Regions from separate parts of the Homo sapiens genome. Here region 1 is reported to be linked to region 2. The links are microRNA targets in miRTarBase. Many come from high-throughput screens and were not tested one by one. Region 2 holds a microRNA gene; the other region holds the end of a gene's coding sequence.
Evidence for each region. The annotated mature microRNA hsa-miR-4330 reads CCUCAGAUCAGAGCCUUGC and lies in region 2 at 2,739-2,757, shown strand. An mRNA with a match to its seed (bases 2 to 7 or 8) in the 3' UTR can be bound and repressed. Matches are read on the target gene's strand: a 7mer-m8 pairs with bases 2 to 8, a 7mer-A1 pairs with bases 2 to 7 and ends in A, and an 8mer does both.

Region 1: the mRNA of KRTAP6-1 is a reported target of hsa-miR-4330. Seed matches in the 3' UTR shown: 7mer-A1 at 6,519-6,525.

Annotation. Positions count from the first base shown.
Region 1 is chr21:30,607,095-30,614,930 of GRCh38, forward strand. KRTAP6-1 (keratin associated protein 6-1) reads right to left here and starts at 6,836. Exons shown (of 1, transcript NM_181602.2): 1 at 6,337-6,836. The coding sequence starts at 6,810. The coding sequence ends at 6,595.
Region 2 is chrX:151,165,560-151,173,395 of GRCh38, forward strand. It overlaps MIR4330 (microRNA 4330), which reads left to right and starts at 2,663; the gene lies at 2,663-2,767.

The DNA.
Region 1 (7,836 bases), not on the chromosome of region 2:
AACAGAGATTAAAATAATTAAAAAGTGTCAAGCATAAATTCTGGAGCTGAAAAATGCAATTGGCATACTGAAGAATGATGCCTTGTTTAGAAAACCTCATCGTTTTAGCCCAAAAGCTTCTTAAGCTGATAAGCAACTTTGGCAAAGTCTCAGGATACAAAATCAACGTGCAAAATTCATTAGCATTTCTATATATCAACAACAGACAAGCAGACAGTCATATCATGAATGAACTCCCATTCACAATTGCTACAAAGAGAATAAAATATCTAGGAATGCAGCTAACAAGGGAAGTGAAGGACTTCTTCAAGGAGAACTACAAACCACTGCTCAAAGAAATCAGAGAGGATGCAAACTAATGAAAAAACATTCGATGCTCATGGATAAGAAGAATCAATAATGTGAAAATGGCCATACTGCCCAAAGTAATTTATAGATTCAATGCTATTTCCGTGAAACTACTGTTGACATTCTTCACACAATTAGAAAAAAATATTTTAAAATGTATATGAAACAATAAAAGAGCTCAAATAACCAAGATAATCCTAAACAAAAAGAACAAAGATGGAGGCATCATGCTACCCAACTTCAAACTGTACTACAAAACTATAGTAATCAAAACAGCATAGTACTTGTACAAGAACAGACACAAAGATCAATGGGACAGAACGCAGAACTCAGAAATAAGACCACACACCTAAAACCAACTGACTTTCAGCAAACCTGGCAAAAGCAAGCAATGGGAAAATGATTCCCTATTTAAAAAACAGTGCTGGGAGAACTAGAACCATATGCAGAAAATTGAAACTGGACCCCTTCCTTGCACCTTATGCAAAAATTAACTCAAGATGGATTAAGGACTTAAAAGTAAAACTCAAAACTCATGTGGCTTTGGGTTGTTTGTTTGTTTGTTTGTTTTTTGAGACAGGTTTCATTCTGTCACCCAGGCTGGAATTCAGTGGCATGATCTCTTCTCACTGCAACCTCTGCCTCCCAGGTTCAAGAAATTCTCCTGCCCCAACCTCCTGAGTAGCTGAGGCTACAGACTTGCACCACCACACTTGGCTAATTTTTGTAATTTTACTAGAGACAGGGTCTCACTATCTTATACAGGCTGGTCTCAAACTCGAGGCCTCAAGTGATTCTCCCACCTCCACTTCCCAAAGTGCTGGGATTACAGGTGTTAGCCACCACACCTGGCCTTTCTTGCTGCTTTCAAGATCTTTTCCTTTGTCTTTACTGGTCATGGTTTAGCTATGATATTTGGGGTGTTAATTTTGTTTTGTTTTGTTTTCTTCTTTCACTTGAATTACTTATTGACATGTCCTAAATAGGGACAGTGAATATTAATCTAGAATTACCAATTATAATATAAACACTATTAAAATATTAGATTTCAATGATAAACAAACACTGAAAGCTCTCAGGAAAACCATTACATAATTTACAATAGGAAAATAATTAGGCTATTCATCGGAATTTTCAAAAGTGACATTCAAAGAAAGACAAAAAGAAAAGCATTTTAAAGAACCTAATAAAAGAAAGCGTTATCCAAGTTCTTTATATTTAACAAAGCTGCCCTCCATATATCAATGGAGTAGAACAACAGCTTCCTACATACAAAAAGTAGACATTTTTGCATCCACAAGCCCATATAGAGTAACACCCTAGAGGGTGAGCATCATCTAATCAAGGGATGAATGGGAAGTGTTAAGCAAAGTATTGAATATATATGTGTGTATGTGTGCATCTGTGAGTGTGTGGGGATACAAACATATGTGTTTTGGTATGAATGTATGTGTGTATGTATGTGTGTGATGATATGAATTTGGTGTGCTACCAAATATAGGGATTAGATGGGAGGATTAATAATACATAAATAATATATTTTGTGATGGAAAAGTAGTTATAATCCAACTAAATGACAAAGGGATAATAGAAGAAGAATGGAAGAGGAAAAGAGAACAAGCTAATTGTTGTTTTATAGACGAGAGGAAGTTAAATAATATTAATATAAGCTATTGTGTCAGATAATAAAATGTTAAATTTAAAAAGAGGGAACAGAGAACATTAAAATTAGTATATATACAAAGGTAACCAGATAGCCACTAATATAACTACCAACCATCAAAATACCATTTAAAAATTTTTTTTATTTTTGTGGGTATTCATTAAAGCATAAAGAATAGGACCAAACATACCAGTCATGGCAATACATGTGAATTTAATTAATTAAAATAAACATTTTAAATTTGGCTGTTGAACTAAGCCTAACTATATGTTTTATATAAACACCTGAAACAAAATGATTTCAAAATGCAAAATTAAAGCCATGCACAAAGGTGTCTGGGAAAAAAATCCCAATAGAAAACATAACAACTCCACTGTCAGATAGATAGAAATGAGGGAAAAGGCATTAAAAGTGATAAAGAAGAAAACTTACCAAGCAAGAGACACGCAAATCACAAGATATCTATTATATATATATATGTATATTTATGCACCAAATAATGCTAAGACCCCCTTTATGAAGACACAGATACCAGATACATGCCACTGAGAGACATAAGTAGAAACACACTAATAAGCAGCACTCTTGGAACAAGACAGATCAAGTGGAAAAAATAAACAAGCAGAGATAAGATCTAAACAATATATTCAAAAGGTAGCTCTCATTTATATAGACTGACCTTTATGCCTTGATAATAATGACCTTTATGCCCTGATAATAAATAATATACCTTTTTTCTCCAGTTCTCATGGAACATCCACACAAAGGTCATACATAATGTCCGGCAGAAAAGATTCGTTTTATAAAACAGAAATAATGGGAAAGGTACTCTCTGATGTCACACAACAATATTAATAACTACTAACAAGAACAAAGAACAGAAAAATCCTTTAACCTGGAAAGTAACAAGCCTTGTATTTAAAAAAATGTTCTTTGTTGAAAGAAGACATACAAATATAATTACCAGTTTTCAATAATTAATGATAGTTTAAATAATCTGTAACAGGGCCTATGAGAAATATTTTTAAAGTGGTTAGGAACAATTCATAGCACTGACATGTTATCAGTAAAAATAGAAGAAAATAAATTAATATTATGAAATATTAATTATATTTCATTAATTATGTAATATGAATTATGTTTTAGCTCAAATATTTCCCAAGGGACAATTAAGTAAATGAAAAATACACACAGATTAAAATAATAAATAGAGAAGGAGATATTAATGAGGTACAAAAAGAAAAAATACATGTAATCACATGAAATGCTATTATTTGAAAGATTAACAAAACTTGTAAACTACCTGCTAACTTGATCAAAGAAAAAAATCGAGAAACCATATGCGCAATTAATAGTAAGAGGGAAATAAACATTGAAACAGAAGACATTTGAAATACCATATAAGACTGGGTTTCAGAGCTCTATGTACGTAAATTGATAATGTCCTGGAGAAGTGCAGATGACCAAAATGGACACCTTTCAACTTAGAAATCATAAACAGATTCATTTCCTTAAAGTTAATGAAAAGAATTAACAGACCCTCCTCAAAAAAGACATATATGCGGCCTACAATCATATGAAAAAAAGTTCAACATTACTGTTCATTAGAGAAATGCAAATCAAAACCACAATGAGATACCATCTCACACCAGTCAGAATGGCTATTATTAAGAAGTCAAAAAATAAAAGATGCTGGCGAGGTTGTGGAGAAAAAAGAATGCTTTTATACACTTGGTGGGAATGTAAATTAGTTCAGTCATTGTGGAAGACTTTGATGATTCCTAGAAGACCTAAATACAGAACTACTATTTGACCCAACAATCCCATTACTGGGTATATACTCAAATGACTATAAATCATTCTATTATAAAGACACATGCATGGATATGTTCATTACAGCACTATGCACAATAGCAAAGACTTGGAATCAACATGAATGTCCATCAATGATAGACTAGATAAAGAAAATGTGGTACACATATACCATGGAATACTATGCAGCCATAAAAATGAAGGAGATCATGCCCTTTGCAGGGACACGAATAGAGGTGGAGGCCATTATCCTCAGCAAACTAACTCAGGAACAGAAAACCAAACACGGCATGTTCTCACTTATAAGTGAGAGCTAAACGATGAGAACACATGGACACATAGAGGGCACACAATGGGGACTAGCGGAGGGTGGAAGGTGGAAGGAGAGAGAGAAGCAGGAAAAACAACTAATGGGTACTAGCTTATTACCTGGGTGATGAAATAATCTGTACAACAAACCCCTATGACACTGTGACACAAATTACCTAAGTAGCAAACCTGCATGTGTACCCCGAACCTAAAATAAAAGTGTTTTTGTTTGTTTGTTTGTTTCTGTTTTTTTGTTTGTTTGTTTGTTTTGGTTTTTTTTTTTTGAGACTGAGTCTCACTCTCTCCCCAGGCTGGAGTGCAGTGACGCAATCTCGGCTCACTGCAAGCTCCAACTTCCATGTTCAAGCGATTCTCCTGCCTCAGCCTCCCGAGTAGCTGGGATTACAGGCACGCACCACCACATCCAGCTAATTTTTGTATTTTTTGTAGAGACAGGGTTTCACCATCTTGGCCAGGATTATCTCAATCTCCTGACCTCATGATCTGAGCGCCTAGGCCTCCCAAAGTGCTGGGATTACAGGCATGAGCCACAGCACCCGGCCAAAGTTTTTTAAAAAAGGACTTTAAGGGACAGTTTTTAAATAAAGAAGAAAAATAAAAATTAACAACAGAAAAGCCCAAACCCAGATGATTTCTCAGGAGACTTCTACCAAATATTTAAAGACAAAGCAATCCCAATATTGTACAAATTGTCAAAGAGCACTTAAAATGAAGGACAACTTCCTAATTCCTATTATGAAGGGTGTATAGTCATCCCCACTTATCCCAAAGGATAAGTTCCAAGATGCCCAGTGAATACTTGAAACCAAGATAGTAACAAAGCCTATATGTAGTATGTTTTTTCTGTATACATACATACCTGTGATAAAGTTTAATTTACAAAATAGTCACAGTAAGAGATTAACAACAATATCTAATAATAGAAGGAACGTATAACAATTACTGTAAAAACAAGTTATGTAAATACAGTCTTTCTCTCTCCCCACCCATCTCTCTCTCTCTCTCTGAAAATAGTTTAATATTTTCTCACAGTGGCTGATCTTGGGTAACTGAAACTACAGAAACTGAAATTATGGTTAAGGGAAAACTACTGTATGCACTGAATTTGCAGTGAGAAGAATCAACATGCCCAGTGATTGCTGCCTCCACATGTCCGTACTCTTGTGTAAGCCCCTCTCTGTGAGTGAGGGTGAGACCTGTTGCTTTTAGCCAATAGAATATGGTGTATGTTTATGATTATGTGTGCTTATGTGATTATGTTACATAAGACTGTAGTACCCATCTTGCTGGAGTCTCTTGCCCTCCCTTGCTGGTTTTGAAAAACAAGCAATTATGTTTCAAAACCCCTTTGACAAGGAACTGTGAGCATCCTTTTGGAGGTGAGGGTTGCCTCCAAAAGATAGCTAGCAAGGCACTGCAACAAATGGCCAACAAGAAAATGAAAATGAGCCCTTTAGTCCTACAACTGCAAGGAACTGAATTCTGCTAACAAAGGCATGACCTTGGAAATGGATCCTTCCCCAGATAAGCCCTGGGTACAATCAGCCCCATTTAAGATCTTGAATTGCAGCCTTGTGAGACTTTGAAGCTTCTCGGTTTATACCTGAAATAGTGTTTTTATTTAATTATTATGGCCCACTATGCAGGTCAAATAGCTTTATAACCTATTACTAGCTTAGAGTATACTAGATTATAAAACTATTCCTTTGGTTATGTCTCATTAAAAAATAGTTTCTTTAAAATGGAAGATTCAAAATGAAGGATATAGTAACAAGCATTCATTTATTTTAGGAGATATGCACAAGAAGGCTTCGGAAAATTAAATTTTTTCTTTGTTATGTGACAGACAGCAGGCAATGCATAACCCAACATATAAATGATAGGTACTTAATTTAGTATTGAGAATTACTCAGCACAACATAAATTCTTCCCCTAGAAGCAAAGGAGGAAACTGAAATTTATTAAAAAGCTTACTTTTCTAAAACAATTGAGCTTTGAATTGGCAAAGAAACCTCTCTAGAAATTGTAAGAAAAATATCTCCCAAAGAATTTAATTGTTAGCTTTCATGCAAACTGAAACAAAAACTATTGGTAAGAAATTTTAAATATTAAATGATTGACATAAACACCAGGTTTCTCTTCTGGATTAAATGTGTTTATTAGGTGAACAGAGAAAAAAGCTCCATCATAAAAGTCATCAAGGCAGATGATGTGACACCATCATTCTGATGAAAGGAGAACTGACAGGTGAATTTTACCTTATCCCGTTTCATGATGGAAATTCAAGATATTTGTAGGTTAGATGGTAGCTCAACAACAGACCATATTAGACTTCCATTGCAGGATATCATCACTCAAGGGAAAATCTCAGAACATGTGGGCTTCAGAATTAGTGAATCTCAGTATCACAGGATAGAGGGTGAGAGTCTCCCATGGCATCCTCAATAATAGTAGCCAGAGCCAGAGCCGCATCCATAGCCATAGCCACAGAGGGAGCGGGAGCCATAGCCATAGCCACAGCCCAGTCTGCGGAAGCCACAGCCACAGCAGGAGCCATAGCCACAGCCCAGGCCTCCATAGCCATAGCCCAGGCCTCCATAGCCACAGAACCCATAGCCAGGGGTGCCATAGTAGTTTCCGTAGTAGCTGCCACACATGGTGTTGGTTGTGGAGGTTGTCCTTGGGTAGGAGGAAGTGTAGGTGACTTCAGTATGAACACTTCCCCTGCAGAGGGCCTTTTATATGCCTCAGTGTGGGTGGGAACCATACACAAGTCATGCCATTGGCTAATTTGAAGGACCAGCATGAGTAATTTGTTGACTCTTGGTTTTCAATCGTGGCCTTGTGGCATTTAGAACATTTTCTATTGTTCAGCCACATCTGAAACATTTGTGCATCTTTAATGAGCATCAACTGTCTGATCTTTAAAACTCTACTCACACCAGACATTCAAATTACCATTTTCCAACCAGCCTTTATGGCAAGAAATAGCATTTTAGTAAACAAACTGACCTGTTCTAAACAACCAATAATTTTACCTTATTTTTGCTGACATTCAACAGGTCATGGTAATCTCCCTTGAGCTTGAGTTTCTCCATCTCTTTCCTGCTGCTCCAAACCCATTGTTTTCCTTTAGGAATTCTTCTCATTTTCACATGAGAGATGGTTTTCTTTTAAAAGCCAGAAAGTGTCACTCAGCTTCCAGAGACTGTTGACACAAAGCCAATAGTTTGAAATTCTAAAATACCAGGCATGAGAAAACTATACTTTTCTTTCTCACATCAATATTTCCTTTTGTGACTGTTTTAAAACAATAGTTCTTTCCCATAGTTTCAAATTCGTAATCAATGAGGTTTCATTTTATTTATAAAATTGTATTTTTATAAAAATTTTCCTGAAATTTCAAGGCATTTGTTATATTTGTGTTCTGGCTCAAAAGTAAGTATAGGTATTTTCATATTTAAAACAATAATACTGGCAGAAGTATCTTTTCATGCAACCTACTATATTTCCACCATCAAACAAGAAGTCTTTGGCAAAATATGAGACTATGAGGAACATGTTACTATAGCCTAATCTTTTTTCAAAGCAGTGAAGATCAGAGCTAAATTGAATGATTAAGTCAAGTAGCCCTCTGGACTTATATTCTTAGTAAGATGACTTTATAAGAGTGAGTTGAATAT
Region 2 (7,836 bases):
CTGCTTCTGTTCAACATAGTACTGAAAGTACTAGCTGAAGCAATTTGGCAAGAAAAAGAAATAAAAGGCATCCAAATTAAAAAAAGAAGTAAAATTATCTATGCTTACAGACAACATGATCTTATGTGTAGAAAACCCTTAAAGGTTACACAACAAAAAGTTAAAGTAGTAAACAAATTCAGCAAGGTTGCAGGATATAAAATCAACACATAAATTTCAATTTAGTTTTTATACACTAACAATGAACAATCCAAAAAGGAAATTAAGAAAACAATTGCATTTACAATGGCATCAAAAAGAATAAAATTGGCCAGGCATGGTGGCTCATGCCTGTAACACCAGCAATTTGGGAGGCTGAGGCGGGTGGATCACCTGAGGTCAGGAGTTCGAGACGAGCCTGGTCAATTTGGTGAAACCCTGTCTCTACTAAAAATACAAAAATTAGCTGGGTGTGGTGGTGCGTGCCTGTAGTCCCAGCTACTTGGGAGGCCGAGGTGGAAGAATCACTTGAACCCAGGAGGCAGAGGTTGCAGTGAGCCGAGATAATGCCACTGCGCTCCAGCCTGGGCGACAGAGTGAGACTCTGTCTCAAAAAACAAAACAAAACAAAGAAACAAAAAACCCATAGAAATAAAATTAATCAAGGAAGTGAAAGACTTGTATCCTAAAAACTACAAAATATTGCTTAAGAAGACACAAATACATGTATAAAAATTAGAGTCCTACTTCACACAGTACATAAAAAAATCAAGCCCAGATAGACTAGAGACCTAATGTGAAAGAAAAAACTAGAAAGCTTTTACAAGATAGTATAGGAGAGTATCTTCATGACCTGAAGGTAGGAAAGAATATCTTAAGAGCAGTAACAAAAAGCACTACCCAAAGCAGCCCAAGAATAGCTGTTGGTAGCCAGCCTGAAAAGAGAGGCTTGGTTGTCTTGGCAACAAGAAAAACAGCCCAAATATTCCCAGATATTTGACCAACTGACTCCTACTCAAAGGCAAGGTCAAAGGGATGCTTAAGGGTATGTTCCAAGTTCCCTCACCCGTCTCCACGTGGGAGTTGGTGGAGCAGTGCTTGCAGTAGAGGAAGGCATGCGTGCCCAGCCAGCCTTTTGGCTCAGCTTTTGAGGCACAGCAGCACTACCAGGACCTCAGCGTTTCACACCAGGGCAGCTGGTGCAAAGAAAACTGGGTGGAGCTAAGACTACCTTCCGGGACCTGGATAAGACCTGAGATCCTGGGGCTTTCTCTGCCAGCTTAAGCCCAGGGAAAGCATTCAGCTAGTCAGTTACATCCCAGAGTAAACCATCCCCCTATCATGCTGACCACAAGCCCAGCTCCTGGGTCTATCCTCACTGGGAGTGGACACGAGAGGGAGGAAGTTTGAGGAAAGAGAAGACGTGCCTGATAGGAAAGATGGCTTCTTCTCTCAGAGCCTCTGTTCCCTCATAACAATGCCAATGATCTTACTGGGTTTCTGTGAGGAATAAATGACATGAGGCACTGTGTGTAACACACAGATGCTATTGAAAAAGAGCAGCTGGCCAGGCGCGGTGGCTCAAGCCTGTAATCCCAGCACTTGGGGAGGCTGAGGTGGGCAGATCTCGAGGTCAGGAGTTCGAGACCAGCCTAACCAACATGGTGAAACACCGTCTCTACTAAAAAAACAAAAATTAACTGGGTGTGGTGGCACACGCCTGTAATCCCAGCTGCTCTGGAGGCTGAGGCAGGAGAATCACTTGAACCCGGGAGGTGGAGGTTGCAGTGAACCAAGATGTCGCCACTGCCCTCCAGCCTGGGCGACAGAGAGAGACTCCATCTAAAAAAAAAAAAGAAAAAGAAAGAAGAAAGAAAGAAAAAGAAAGAAAGAAAGAAAAAGAAAGAGAGAAAGAAAGAGAAAGAAAGAAAGAAAGAAGCTAAGGTCATTACTACCCCTCACACATGGAGGGCAGCTGAATTCTGCCTCTCTGGAGATCCAGAAGCCTTCCTTCTCCAATGCAGTAGAATGTGACAGCAAGGAAGGAGTGAAGGAAAGGGTTTGGTGATCACCTCAAAATCCTTTCCAATCAAACTACTTGAGTTTTCTGTGAAAGCCAAAGGACATCTCCAAGTGGAAGGAAAGTCATAAGAATGTGTTTTTTTATTTTTTTGTTTGTTTTTTCATTTTAGAAAATGTAATGTGTCACAGTGATATGGTTTGACTCTGTGTCCCCACCCAAATCTCATCTTGAATTGTACTCCCATAATTCCCATGTGTTGTGGGAGGGACCTGGTGGGAGATAATTGGAATCATGGGGGCGATTTCCCCCATACTGTTCTCATGGTAGTGAATAAGTCTCACGAGATCTGATGGTTTTATCAGGGGTTTCCGCCTTTACATCTTCCTCATTTTTCTCTTCCCATTTTTCTCTTGCTGTCATCATGTGAGAAGTGGATTTCACCACCCACCATGATTCTGAGGCCTCCCCAGCCATGTGGAACTGTAAGTCCAATTAAACCTCTTTATCCTCCCAGTCTCGGGTATGTCTTCATCACACAGTGAGAACAGAAAGCAGACAGTGAGAAGCATACTGGCGACGTAAGGCAATTTTGACTAGAAAGTGGAACTTAACTATGAACTATCTGTTTCAGAGAGGATAGAAGCACCAGAACTACTAGCTAATTGTCAGCAGGCAATTATCTGAGGATGCAGGAGAGGAAGGGGGCTTCTTTTTGACGCCTACTTCATCAGCTGCTCCTCAGATCAGAGCCTTGCAGGTCAGGCCAGAGGGGAGACTCAGGAAGTGTTTTTGGTGTTTGTTCCAAATGGGGGCTCATTGTGGGCCCTGTGTCACTGGAATTACAATATCTGTTCAATCTAATTCCCTGGGGCTTTAAGTCTTACAAATTGGCGCTGGCCTCAGCAATGAAAAAAATAGGTGAAGTCTTGGAGTCTTTTCGACCCAGGCTAGTGTGGGATTGTTTCCTCATTTGCATCCACTTACAGAAAGTTCCAGTGATTTCCTTTGGTGACTCTACAGCCAAATGAATGGTCCTGCTAGCGTGTTTTATTGCAGTTTGTCCTTTTGCTTCTTTAATATTCCAGACAGACACATCTCCCCCCTGGGCCCTCCACACACTTTCCTCTCCATTCCAGTAATACTTAGCTTGAGGAGGTGGTTCCTGTACACACAATTCCCCACCTTTCACTCATGGGCCTCCCTCTGACTAGAATGGATACAGATGTAATAAGGGAGTCCCAACCCTCTGGCTTAGGTGACAAAGCTATTTCAATAAAAGTATACTTTTTTTTTCTGACTGCTCGTGTGTTATAACATCATGTGAAAATGGCTAGATAGATGTTGTCTGCATTTGGAGGTAGCTTTATAATGGTCAGACTCAGAAGATATGTTACATGGAATATACAAAATTGATTTGGGGGAGTCCTGGGAAGGACCCCCAAAAGCTAAGTCTTCCAGGGCAGCTGCAATTGAGGTTCGGAGAGAGACTCACCATACCTACAAGATGGCATGGATACAAAACACACAGTCGTTTCAAATATAAGCCCAATTCAAAACAGTATGTACATTCCTCAAATGCCAGGGGTCAATTTGCAAACTGCTACGTACAGGGGCGATTCTACAGTAGCGTACTACTCAGGCAAACAGGAGACAGGCATGTTTCTAAGAATGGGTTATGAATCTCCTGAGCAAACAGAGGAGGCTGGCTAAAGCGAGTAGGAAATATATCAAATCAGTATCCGCCAGAGGCAGATGGCAAGTTGACAGCCAGAACTGGGCCCCTCCAATCCTGAATCAATAGTTCCTGCTCCCCAGGGTTGACTGAGCCCCTTGCTCGGGGGAAGGGGAGAAAGAAAATCCCATTACCAACCAATGCCAAGTCCTCATATTTGGCTCATTTAGGGTCAGCTACAGGTGGTCCGCAGCCATAGAGCTGCCAGATAAAATACACGGCCCCTGGCTAAATTTAAATTTCTGATAAACAGTGGACAATTTTGAGTATAAGTATGTCCGAATATTGCATGGAATATACTTATACTAAGAATGTACTTGGGATTCAAATTTAACTGAGCATCCTGTATTTTTGATAAATAGGCAACCCTACTCAGGCAAGCCATCAGGATGAGTTTGGCAGCAGGAAGGTGGCCATAGTCAGGCCTCTGGTTGCCCTGTTTTCAGGGAGCTGGTCAGGTTATTATCAGGCATTGGGCTGGGAACCCCATCACCAGAACTGTGATAGAGGGTAGGGTTTAGTCTGAGGGTCAAAGCAAGATCTTATACACTAGAACAAGTTTATAAAGTCCCAGCAGGGACTAGTATATAAACCCTCAAGAGCAAACTCAGCAGGAGTCACTGGATGACAGACCTAGACATCCTTAAATTGCCAAGGGCTAGGGGCAGGGCTGAGTTAACAGCAGGATTTCTCTAGAAGGGATTCCTGGGCTGCTTGCATTAGAATCACCTGAGACACTTGGGAAACATGCAGATTCCAGGGCCCCGTACAGACCTGCCAAGTCACACTCTCTAGGGGAAGGCCTAGAAAGCTGCAATTTCTTAATACTCCTGGCTGCTCTGTCATGCACTAAATTTGAGACCCAGTGCTCTAGAGCCAGGAACCAGGTGTGGCCTGCAAATAAGCCATGAGGCACAGTGGTTAAAGCACAGATTCTGGAGCCAGACTGCCCAAGTTAGACTTCTGGCTCTACCACTTATTACCTGTGTGACCTGGGGCAAGTGACTTAACCTCTCTGGGCCTCACTTTCTTCATCTGTAAAGCAGGCATAGTAATAGTGCCTATTTCATAGGCCTATTGTGAGGATTAAATGAGAATATATGAGCAAAGCACTCAGAACAGTCTGGCATCTAGGAAGCACACATTCATATGTGTTAGCTATTATTAGGAGCTGAGTGGACCTGCAGGGTTCGCAGAAAGAGGACTGGTTTGGGGCTTAATGGGTACCCATGGCCTATGTCCTGCAGTGGGGTGGCTGAAGCAGAACTCACAGAGCAAGTGGAGGAGGGCTTTTTGCATGAGAAGTCATGAGGATGATTAATAAAAGGGACAGTCGTTAAATGCACGGGTGATCATGCTTGGCTAGAATGAGAAGCTAAGAAAATGGATATTGTTCATTAAGCTCTAATTAGCAGATAAATTGTACAAGGGGAAGGGAGTCCAAGTGTTACTACAAGTAATTAATGTGCGTCTTCTCTCCCTGGTCACCCTTTGATTTGAACCACCTAACCTGTAGTCTTTATCAGACACTAAGATCCTGGAAATACTGGCTGCTAATTATTTTGGTGAGCCCCTGATTGCACTAAAGGAAATGCATGTGTCCTGCTCTCTCTAATGACTCAAGCACAAGGAGAAGATAAAGTGGTTCTAACCATGATGAATTAAGCCTGGGGGATTTGGAGAGGACAATCATTCTCTCTGTTCATTTCACAAATGTGAACGGTGTCTCCAAGTTGGTAAAGTAAATGTGACCAGACGCAGTCTGATTAGGAAAAAAATCAGTACCTGTCCCAAACTGCTCTTGAGTTGGCTAATGTTGTGACTTGGCTTGTTCTCGGTTCCAATGACTTCATTCCTGCCTAAATCCCTACTCAGTTCCTTTGAAGATTCAACCTTACCATTGGAGTCTTGGCCCCACTTTCGACCTGGAACCAGAGCTCCCTTAGCCTGGACTGGCCCCACGCTCCGTTGAAACCCAGTTTCTCCTGCCTGAGCTCTCCCAGCCACCTATGCACTTGGGATCTCACCTATTTCTAGGCCAACCATACTTCCTACTTTCATACTGAAACGATGTAAAGGAATTTGATTGTTCTTTCTTGTGGAAAAAGATACAAACTGTGTCAGTGAAGCATCTCGGGGGTTGTGGGGGGCAGTGAAAAGGCAAGTCACTCTGTATGTCCCTTTCCATCTGACACACTCACAGGGGCCTGGGATGCTAGTGTGTGCCCATTGGTTGGCTTCTGCCAGGAATTGGAGCCTGGGTGTGCTAGGTGCAGAGTCTCCTGATATCGCAGAGAGCCCCTGTTCTCAATGGAAGTGCAACAGAGTAGAGTCTAGACAGAGTATTAGAAACTTTCAGGATAATAATCATGATAATAGCCAGTGGTTTTTGAATGCTTTTTCTGTTCTGGGTAGTGTTCTCAGTGCTTATATGCATTATCTCATTTAACTTTCCTATCAACCCTATGATGAGGCACTGTGATTATCTGCATTTTATAGTGAGGTGGCTGAGACACAGAGACGCTAAGTAACTTGCCCAAGGTCACATATCTGACTAGTAGTAAAGCTGGGTTCTGGGCTTGTTTTTACTTTCAAGAATTGAGTCAAATGTAGTCCCACTTCATTAAGCTGCTGGGATGGGAGGAGCAGGAGGGGCAGGGCCTGGATGGGTGAAGCAGCCAAGAGGCTCCTATGTAACTTCCTATGAAGAGGTAGTTGTCTCCAAACATGTGGAAACAAATTGAGAATGTTCTGCTTGTATTCAAGCTGAAAGACATTTTCATTCTTATTGGGTTTGCATCAAATTCTCATTTTGCTAGTCTTATACATTAGAGTATCAACCAATGGTCCCATGTAGCTTTAACAAATGATCTAATAAATTGAGAGAAGCATTGGCCAGAGAAAGTTGGAGTGCTTGGAACAGGCCTTGGCTGGCTGTCCAGCTCCACCTGGGGGAGACGGGAGGTGTGAGCTGGCACTAAGAGGCCCTCTGCCTGTCTAACTTGGACCAGGGTTGCTTGGGGCTAAAAGAGAGCCCAAAATGTTCATAGCAGCATTATTCACAATAGTCAAAAGTGGAAAGAACTCAAGCATCCACCAATGAATGAGTAAATGAAATGTGGTGTATCTATACAATGGAATATTATTCAGCCATAAAAAGGAATGAAGTGTTGACCTATGCTACTACATTGATGAACCTGAAAACATTATGCTAAGGGAAAAAAGCCAGATGCAAAGGCCACATATTGTGAGATTCTGTTTTGGTGAAATGTCCAGAATAGGCAAGTCCATAGAAAGTGAAAGCAGATTTATGGTTTCTAGGAGCTGGAAGGTGGCGGGGAGTCTGGAGTGACTACTAATTGGTATGAGGGTTCTTTTTGGGGTGTTGAAAATGTTCTGAAATTAGATAGTGATGATGATTGCACAACTTTGTGTATATACAAAAAACTACTGAATTCTACACTTTAAAGGGTGAATATTATGGTATATGAGGTATATGAATTACATCTCAATAAAAACAGGCAAACAAACAAAAACCAGAACAACAGCAACAAAAAAGAGAACACAAAGTCCACACTATTAAGACCCAGAGCAAAACACCGTCTTGGCCGGACGCGGTGGCTCACACCTGTAATCCCAGCACTTTGAGGGGCGGAGACGGGCGGATCACAAGATCAGGAGATCGAGACCATCCTGGCTAACATTGTGAAACCCCGCCTCTACTAAAAATACAAAAAATTAGCTGGGCGTGTTGGCAGGTGCCTGTAGTCCCAGAGCTACTCGGGAGGCTGAGGCAGGAGAATGGCGTGAACCCAGGAGGCAGAGCTTGCAGTGAGCCGAGATCGCGCCACTGCACTCCAGCCTGGGCGACAGAGCAAGACTCCATCTCAAAAAAACAAAAACAAAAACAACAACAAAAAAACAAAAACAAGCGAACAAACAAAACAAACAAACAAACAAAAACCACTGTCTGATGAAGCTGGGTTGTGGGAGAAAGACCTTGAGCTGAGAGGGAATCCAGCCTGGATTTAAGCCTTGGCATGACCTTGGACAAGTTCTTTCACCTCTCTGGGGCCTCAGTTTTCTTATCTATTTAATGACA